Linked DNA regions of Homo sapiens: regions 2 and 3 are each linked to region 1. Evidence: fine-mapped expression QTL. A gene starts in region 1. Each other region holds a variant in brackets. All regions are shown on one strand. Distances are from middle to middle.

Region 1 (2,766 bases):
CTTATAAAAGAGGGCTGAGGGAATGCCCTTGGCCCTTCTGCCACGTGAGGACATAGGTTCTCCCTTCTACCACGTGAGGATGCAGCAAGATGGCTCTGTCTATAAGGAAGGGCTCTCACCATGGTGACACAGAAGCTGCTGGCACTTTGATCTTAGACTTCCTAGCTTCCAGAACTGTGAGAAATAATTCTATTGTTCATAAATTACCCAGTTTGTGGTATTTTGTTATAGCAGCCTGAATGGACTAAGACAAAAGCTAGTCTAAAATAAACATACAGAATAACTTTTTCTAGGCACCTCACTTGTGGAGGGACTAAAGAATGAAGGTGACCAAAGAGAAGGCAGAGGGATCAGAAAGACAGCAAAGGGCCACAATAGCAGAAGCCCTCCTCCACTTAGCCCCGACCTGTCTGTGAGCTTCATGGCCCACCCCTCTCCCATTTACCTGGCCCTCTCCACTGTACACCCATCTGCACGCTGTGCATGCCCCTTCTCAGCTTCCCAGGAAGAGCCTTTCTTGATAGCACGCCCCCTCCCTTCCAAGGCCGTGCCCCACAGCAGTCTGCGCCTCTCTCTACTGTTGCTCCTACTCTGCTCCAGCAGAAATACCCGCCTTCCGTTTCAGCCCGAGTTCTTTGAGAACAAAGGCTGTGTCTATTTCATTTCTGCACGCAGAGCCTGGCTCACCGCGAGCGTGCACAGGGGTACGCATGGATGCAACCAAGCGGTGGCTTGCTAGGGAACCCTCCTTAGAGGCTGTGCGAGGAATGCCCCACCCCAAAGGAGAGATGGTCACCCCGTTTCTCACTCATGGTCCGGATGGGAGAAGGGTTTCTGGCTGCGCTCGCTGCCGTGATGAACCGTGCGTAATTCATGTCTTCTGACAGCCAAGCATCAAGCTTCTTCTTCAGTGGTTGAGGACTAGAAAAACCAAAGAGCCTCGTCAAGTCCTGCCTGCTAACTCCTCACTCTGGCAACGCCACCGCGAGATGTGTCCCCCCGCTGCGTCTGGCTTCCCGCGCGCGGTGCCCGGAGAACGCCGCCGAAACTCCCCGGCTGGACGCTGCGTTCGGTCTCCCGGTCCTAAACGGGTCTGGGGCTGTGTGGCGAGCCCGGCAAAGTCCACGCCGCACGCGCTCCTGCGGCCGCCAGGGCCCAGGCCGGTTTTGCCCCGCCGCGGGCCTCGCCGCGCCCCCTCCCGCCCCGCGCCGTGGCCTATGGCCGCCCGCGGCGCGCGCCTCCCCGTCCCGGATCATCGCCCTCAGAGCGCAGGGCGCGGGGTAGCCCAGGCGCGAGGCGCTTGCAGCCCCAGGCCAATGACTCTTGACCTCGCCGCTGGGAATCACCGCAACCCGGCGTCCGCGTTGGCCGGCCTAGGCGCCGGCCCAGAGGCTAGCCCAGGGGCTGACCGAGGGGACCGGAAGTGCCCGTGATCCTAATCCTCGGGAACCATCTGGCGGCGACTTGGGTCCACTGCAGGGGGCTCCCGAGCTGCGCCCAGCCGGGAGCGGCCCCACCCTCGTTCCCGCGCGCTCCGCTGGCCTCCTCTCAGTCACTGGGACTGTGCATTTTGCCCGCTCAGACCATGGCTATGCTAAATACCCATCTTTCGTTAGTGAAACTCTGGGCACTCTCCTGGGAAGCATCCCGGCGACCAAGACGAATTTCAACATCACTTTCTCGAAGATCTCAGCATTTTGGAGTGACGATGGAGTTCTGACAAAAATTTTTGAAAAATCACTCTGAGTCTCTTCAATTTTAGTGTCTACCCTCACATTGAATTTCTGACCTTTCGTTAAATAAGAATTATGTTGGAAGTGAATATCCGGATCTTTTTGGGTCTAGCACCTTGCCTTTTTTTTTCTTACAAAATAACCCTTCTTACTCCCCACCTCCCTCAACTTTTCTGCAATTTCTCCTTCCTGAATCACCAAAATGGAATGTACAAGGTTTAATGTGAGCACTTAATGAGGGAAGGGTTTCAGACAACCTCTCTTTGACTTTAAAAAATTCTTTAATGGTTATTAAAATGAATGAACAGATTCATTCATTCAGCACAAATTTACTGAGTACTTCCTAGATGATTATTGACTCACTGCCAAATGGCTCTCTTTTAAGTTTACCTAATAGGTTGGTCAAGGAGCCACTGCTTTTATCTAGGTCCTGGCAGCAAAAGGCTGAGATAACCCAGTAAAATCTTTGTGCTAGCAGCTAAATAACAAAAAGGAAGTATTGAGAGGTGACAGCCTGCTGGCAGCCCTCGCAGCCCTCGCTCACTCTTGGCGCCTCCTCGGCCTCAGCGCTCACTCTGACCGCGCTTGAGGGGCCCTTCAGCCCGCCGCTGCACTGTGGGAGCCCCTTCCTGGGATAGCGGAGGCCGGAGCCGGCTCCCTCAGCCTGCGGGGAGGTGTGTAGGGAGAGGCACGGGCGGGAACCAGGGCTGTGCGGGCGCTTGCGAGCCAGCTAGAGTTCCGGGTGGGCGTGGGCTTGGCGGGCCGGCACTCAGAGCGGCGGGCCGGCTCCGCCAGACCCGGGTAGTGAGGGGCTTAGCACCCGGGCCAGCAGCTGCGGAGGGTGTGCCCAGTCTCCCAGCAATGCCGGCTCACCGGCGCTACCTTCGAATTCTCGCCAGGCCTCAGCTGCCTCCCAGCGGGGTGGGACTCGGACCCGCAGCCAGCCATGCCTGAGCCTCCCCACCACCCACCCGTGGGCTCCTGCGCTGCCCGAGCCTCCCTGACGAGTGCCGCCCCCTGCTCCACAGCACCC
Region 2 (2,766 bases), 24 kb before region 1:
AAGAGTTACTGTGGGTGAGGGAAGAAGGGAGGGGTAGGGTGGGCAAGTGAATAGCTCGCGTGTGCGTATTTACAATGTAGTCAGTCTTAGGGTAGTGCAAGAAATCCCACTCCTCTCTCCTTCACTTAGAACCATACCTAGACAAACATGGCTATTTCAATTTAGAAGAGGATTCTTCCATTATTTGTGGATTCTTCCAGCATTACAACAAATCCTAGTATTCTTGTAATAGTTTAGATGTCCAGTGGATTAGCGTTTTTATCAGAATGTAATTAATTATGAAAAGAAATACTTAAAATTCAAGAATTCCAGAAGCAGTTGTGGGCTTTACGTTTCATTGAGTATTAGGATAGAGAAATCAAAAACAAGCATAATGATCTTTGATTTAAATTACTATCTTTTTAAAAAAAGAACTTGCTGTTGATTCAAAGTTTTTCTTCAGTACTATTATGCAAAGTGGTAAAATAATGCTATTGTCAGAAAGATACTAATTCTGTTTTTTTTTTTTTGGATGGAGTTTTGCCTCACCCAGGCTGGAGTGCAATGGCATGATCTTGGCTCACTGCCACCTCTGCCTTCCAGGTTCAAGTGATTCTCCTGCCTTAGCCTCCGAAGTAGCTGAGATTACAGGTGCCCGCCATCACGCCCAGCTAATTTTTATATTTTTAGTAGAGATGGGGTTTCACCATGTTGGCCAGGCTGGTCTGGAACTCCTGACCTCAGGTGATCCACCCACCTTGGCCTCCCAAAGTGCTGGGATTACAGGCATGAGCCACTGCACTCAGCCACTAATTCTGTTTTTACCAAGACTTTATAGAAAATAAGATAGGACAGAAATAAGGAATTGCTATTTTTGGTTTACTATTATTTATATCAAAGGCATTTTAATAATATAATTAAAGCCATATGATTAATTTGACCTTCATAATAAAAAAAGAATCTAAAACATTTTGCAATCAAGTTAGCAATAGATAATACTACAGAGATAAATGAGGTTAATGATTAGAAGGCAAATAATTTGTCAGTAAGACATCTGCCTTTGTACAGCTTAGTTAGAGAAGCATGGTTTGACAATTTTACCCTTTGGGGTAAAATTCTGAAATAACTAAAATTTTTGAAAATAGATATTATTAAGCTTTAAGTAAGTTAGTGATTGATTTTTAGATCTTTTTTTTTTTAATCACAAATT[C/A]TTTGCAGCAGACAGGTAAAGTGGATAGGAAGGTCTGTGCCCAGGTTTATCAAATGTTGCTTCTGAGATGATTTATGGTGTAATGTTTCCTTGGCAAGAATACTCCTGGACTGTTTCTTTTCCACCAGGATTGTTAGTAATATTCAGTGTTTATCCCCTACTTTTACAGATGCTACTGTTTATCATGAGGACGAATATACGTTCCACTCACCAGTTAACCACTTGTCTGCAGCTGCCAGTATTGCATCCTTCTGGTTACTATAGAAATCAATAACCCTAGAAAAAGAAAACAATGAAATGGATGTGCTCAGTACATTGATTGCAGAAGCAAAACAGTCTCCAGAGTCCAGGCTATAAGAATTTGTTTTCTATCTTGATTAAAATGTTGAATGCTTGATAGAAGAATGGAGCATATTTGTTTCACTTGTCTGGTGAAAAACTTTTAACTGCTGTGTTTTTTCCTTCATTGTAGAATAATTACAAAATAAAAATTCATAAAGAGAAGTCCATTTCTATGTAAAATATGGAACCTAGAAGTAGCAGGATCAATCTTTGTGTTTAGTTGTCTAAATACTGGTTCTCATCACTCAGGATAAAAGACAATACTATTGAAATAATGAATCACCGGTCTGGGAATGCGAATACCCCATTCCTCCTTATTTCTAAATGTCCTAGGAGGTACCATATTTACACAGCTAAAGTAATCCATAACTTGTACCAATATACAGACTATTTAGGGAAATTATGTTCACCTTCATCTTTACTTGAGCCAAATCCCGTGTCATGTATCCTTCACAATTAATCATTATTAAATAAAATATTTATATGTATGAAGTTTACCCATTACATCATTTAAGTAAGTAAATCTTAACCTGGTGGGAATTTTGGACTACCTTAGGAGTGGGTGGACACTGCTTTCAAACCACACCTTGGATGCTGAGAAGACTTGCTAGGTGAAGAACTAACAAAATGAATAGACTTTTGACTTATAATAGACCGTTCCTATTGTCTCTCCTTTCCGAGGATACTTAGGAAGGAAGAATAAATCAATACTGTAGGTGATCTGTACTATGTTCACTGGGCTCCTGTTTTGTTCATAAATATTTAAAGAAATGATACAATACCTGTCTACATGAGCCATGAAACCTTCTTCTCCCCATTCGTGTAGAAGCTGTGATATCATGAGCTAAAAGAGATAAAATCATAAATACCATGTTTCATCCCCTGAAAATGTACTTTTTGCCATATATAAAAGCAACTCACTTTTGATTACATGTAAACCACAATAAGATATAACAAGCTGAGCCTAGCTTATATAGTCAGTGATTTAAAACAAATGTCAATTAATAACAATGATAATACTAGTAAAAATAACAAATATTGATATACTATTTGTTATGTAGCAGGCACTGTTGTAAGATACTAATATATTTTACCAAATGTAATCTCTATAAATTTCTATTTTACTAATGAGGCACAAGGGTTAAGTTAACTTTTCTGAGTCCCACAGCCTGAAATCAGTCAGGCTATCCAGCTCCTGACCCGCGCTGTTAATTGCCATACTGTACTGCTTCTCT
Region 3 (2,766 bases), 51 kb after region 1:
TCTCTTAGAAAAGGATAAATACATTCTGTGTTGCTTCTAATGTTTGTCAGGGGAAGGAGGCCACATTGAGTTCTATTGTGAGAAAAGAAGCAGAATGAGAATGAGGTCTTTTGCATGGAAGGGATAATGAGAGTTTGGGCAGAGCAGGAAGAGACTACTAAAGAGGGGACGAAGTCAGCAAAAGGATGGACTTGGCTAGGGAGAGCCTGTATTCATGCCCCTGAGAGGTCTGAGCGTGGTTGATGACCTGGAATGGGTGTATTCTTTGTGTCCAAACCTGTGGCTCAGGGATGACCTAGCTGGGCCAGCTGTCCTCATTAAATAGTCATTATTTTTATTAAATGGAGGATCGTGCTTCATTCAAAGTCAATAACAGCTAGTATCAATGACTAAGATATTGACTGCCTAGTAGTAGCAACATCCCTGCCTACACCCAGAGATATTATCAGCCAATTACCTCATCATCTGGTTATGGGGGAATCTGTGTTCTGCGCCATGCCTTGAGCATGACACATATTTTGGCAAACCTATGTCTAGGTTTCCTTTCTGCAATACCATATGAAATAGTAAACTCGAGTGACCACTGGACTTCTAATGGGATGAGCAGTGTGGCAGAAGTTTCTGTTTTGCTAGGACCATCCTAACCTAAGAAAGTCATGAAGTAAACTCCACAGTATCGTGTATGAAATTCTATGCTAGGCATTGTAGACTAAATAGAGATGAATAAGACTTGATTCCTTATGTCTGATTCCTGTTTATGGGGCAGAATGGATACTATGGGTCCATGATAAAGTGTCAGGTCAGGAGGGGAATACATTGGGGTAAGTATTTCCCTACTTGAGACAGTAAATGCAAATAAGGTTTTGTAAGTCCCTTTACTCTTAAGGTAGGGCTCAACTCTGTTTTAATACATTTCTGACTTCTGAGTTCATTGGTTTATGTGTGAAACAAAAAGATTACTTTCTTAATTTCTTGAAAAAGTCCAATATCATCTGTAAAGTCTTTTGTTGATGTTATATGATATCACACAGAGGAAGAATTATGGGTTGGATCGTAATACTATTAGCTTGATGAGTTTCTGGCTGAACATTGAACCACACATTGCTAATCTGATATGTTTTCTGCTGGTAAATATCAGAGCCTTGTTGTGGCCCGTATTCTGTTCAATACGTTCATCAGGGATTTGGATAAAGATATGAAGGACACACTCACCAAACATGTGGATGACACAGAGTTAAGAGGGTTCATGAAAAAAAACCCTAAATGACAGAATCAGATGAAAGCGGTCCTAACATGATAGAAAGATGAACCAAACTCTAAAAGAAGTGTGATAGAGATAAACATTAAGCACTATATATATAATATATATATATATATATATATAACTTTAGTATTGTTAACCAAAATAAACTAGGTTCCTGCACTAGGCCTGACAGACCAAACCAACATAAAGTTGAACTCCAGGAGCTGAGCTTTAGTTACTGCAGGAC[G/T]CTCCGTAGCCAGTTAACCAATGAAGCTGTATCCAATTCAGTTTTCTGTACACCGTACTTCTGTTTCCTATAAATGCTGTCAGATCATGTTATTAGTTGGAGTTCTCTGAACCTGCCCTGGTTCAGAGGACTGCCTGATTTGTGAATCATTTTCATTCTGTTTTTACTTTGCTTTGCTTTCCTCTGCTCAAATAAAGTCAGTTAAATTTAAATTTGGTCTAAGGTTTTTCTGTTTAACAGCATTGTTGAATCTTAACATTAGAAGTATGACAAAACAAAAACAAGCAAAAACGTAACAGAATATAATAGTTCAAAACACAATATTTGGTATTACAGTGAGACATGGTTAAATAGGTAAGGCATAAATCTCTCTCTGTGAGTTCTAGATCAGCTTATCAAGATCATTAAAATAGCAACAGCCTGAATCCTGAACTTTCATTTTGTCTCTTTGGAAACTGTATTTTTGACATTGACAGGCTTAAGGCAGCCTTATTTATTCTGAAAATAACTAGACAGAGAAGTCTTCATGAGCAAGAATATCTTAAACTTTCATGATTCCAGCTAAGAATAGCCTGTCTACAGTGTGACATATTGGCTACATTTGTCAGCCTTTTTATTCATGAGGATAGTCACACACTTTTAAGATCACCAAACAAAACCACCCTATCCATCCATTGACTTTCTTTCTCCCTTTATCACTCAAAGTGAATTCAGCATTGAATTTGTTTACCTGCATTAGGTAACAGTTTTGGAACCGGTTGCATGAGGGGAAGTAATGATACAGTTCTTTCATTCTATAATATTTTTCGTGAATCCACTGCAGTGTTTAGGGTTATCCATAGGAATGTTTAAAAGAGGTTTTCTGCAGCCGGGTGCAGTGACTCATGCCTGTAATCCCAGCACTTTGGAAGGCCGAGGCAGGTGGATCACCTGAGGTCGGGAGTTCAAGAGCAGCCTGGTCAACATGGTGAAACCCTGTCTCTACTAAAAATACAAAAAAATTAGCCGGGCGTGGTGGCGAGCACCTGTAATCCCAGCTACTTGGGAGGCTGAGACAGAGAATCACTTGAACCTGGGAGGTGAAAGTTGCAGTGAACCGAGATTTCACCAATGCACTCCAGCCTGGATGACAGAGTGAGACTCTGTCTCAAAACAAAACAAAACAAAACAAAACAAAAACTGTATCCAAGAGTAATTTTTTACTTGATTTGATACTTGAGAGATTCTCATGTATCTGAGAAGCACCTCCATCGTAAATATGTGATCCACCCCAACA

Direction of the effects. Alleles are on the strand shown, and positions count from the first base shown. SD is a standard deviation of normalised expression in the study named. Not every link is listed here.
In carriers of allele T in region 3, the expression in prefrontal cortex of the gene that starts at base 1,141 in region 1 tends to be lower than with G alone (moderate effect, 0.59 SD a copy in ROSMAP).

Evidence for each region. PIP is the estimated chance that this variant, and not a neighbour inherited with it, causes the effect. A credible set is the group of variants that fine-mapping cannot tell apart.
Region 2: its variant is the best candidate, but not a certain one, in a credible set for the expression of AADAT in tibial artery (GTEx, PIP 0.68).
Region 3: its variant is the best candidate, but not a certain one, in a credible set for the expression of AADAT in prefrontal cortex (ROSMAP, PIP 0.68).

Annotation. Positions count from the first base shown.
Region 1 is chr4:170,088,816-170,091,581 of GRCh38, forward strand. It overlaps AADAT (aminoadipate aminotransferase), which reads right to left and starts at 1,141. Exons shown (of 13, transcript NM_016228.4): 1 at 809-1,141. The coding sequence starts at 875. RefSeq lists a silencer at 363-657 and an enhancer at 2,557-2,766.
Region 2 is chr4:170,065,014-170,067,779 of GRCh38, forward strand. It overlaps AADAT (aminoadipate aminotransferase), which reads right to left. Exons shown (of 13, transcript NM_016228.4): 9 at 2,314-2,375; 10 at 1,401-1,465. LOC107986326 (a long non-coding RNA gene) reads left to right here. Exons shown (of 2, transcript XR_001741918.2): 2 at 1,359-1,693. Among named protein-coding and RNA genes, the nearest start is that of AADAT, 24 kb to the right of the region's middle. The variant C/A (reference allele first, on the strand shown) is at 1,190.
Region 3 is chr4:170,139,472-170,142,237 of GRCh38, forward strand. No RefSeq gene overlaps it. Among named protein-coding and RNA genes, the nearest start is that of AADAT, 51 kb to the left of the region's middle. The variant G/T (reference allele first, on the strand shown) is at 1,491.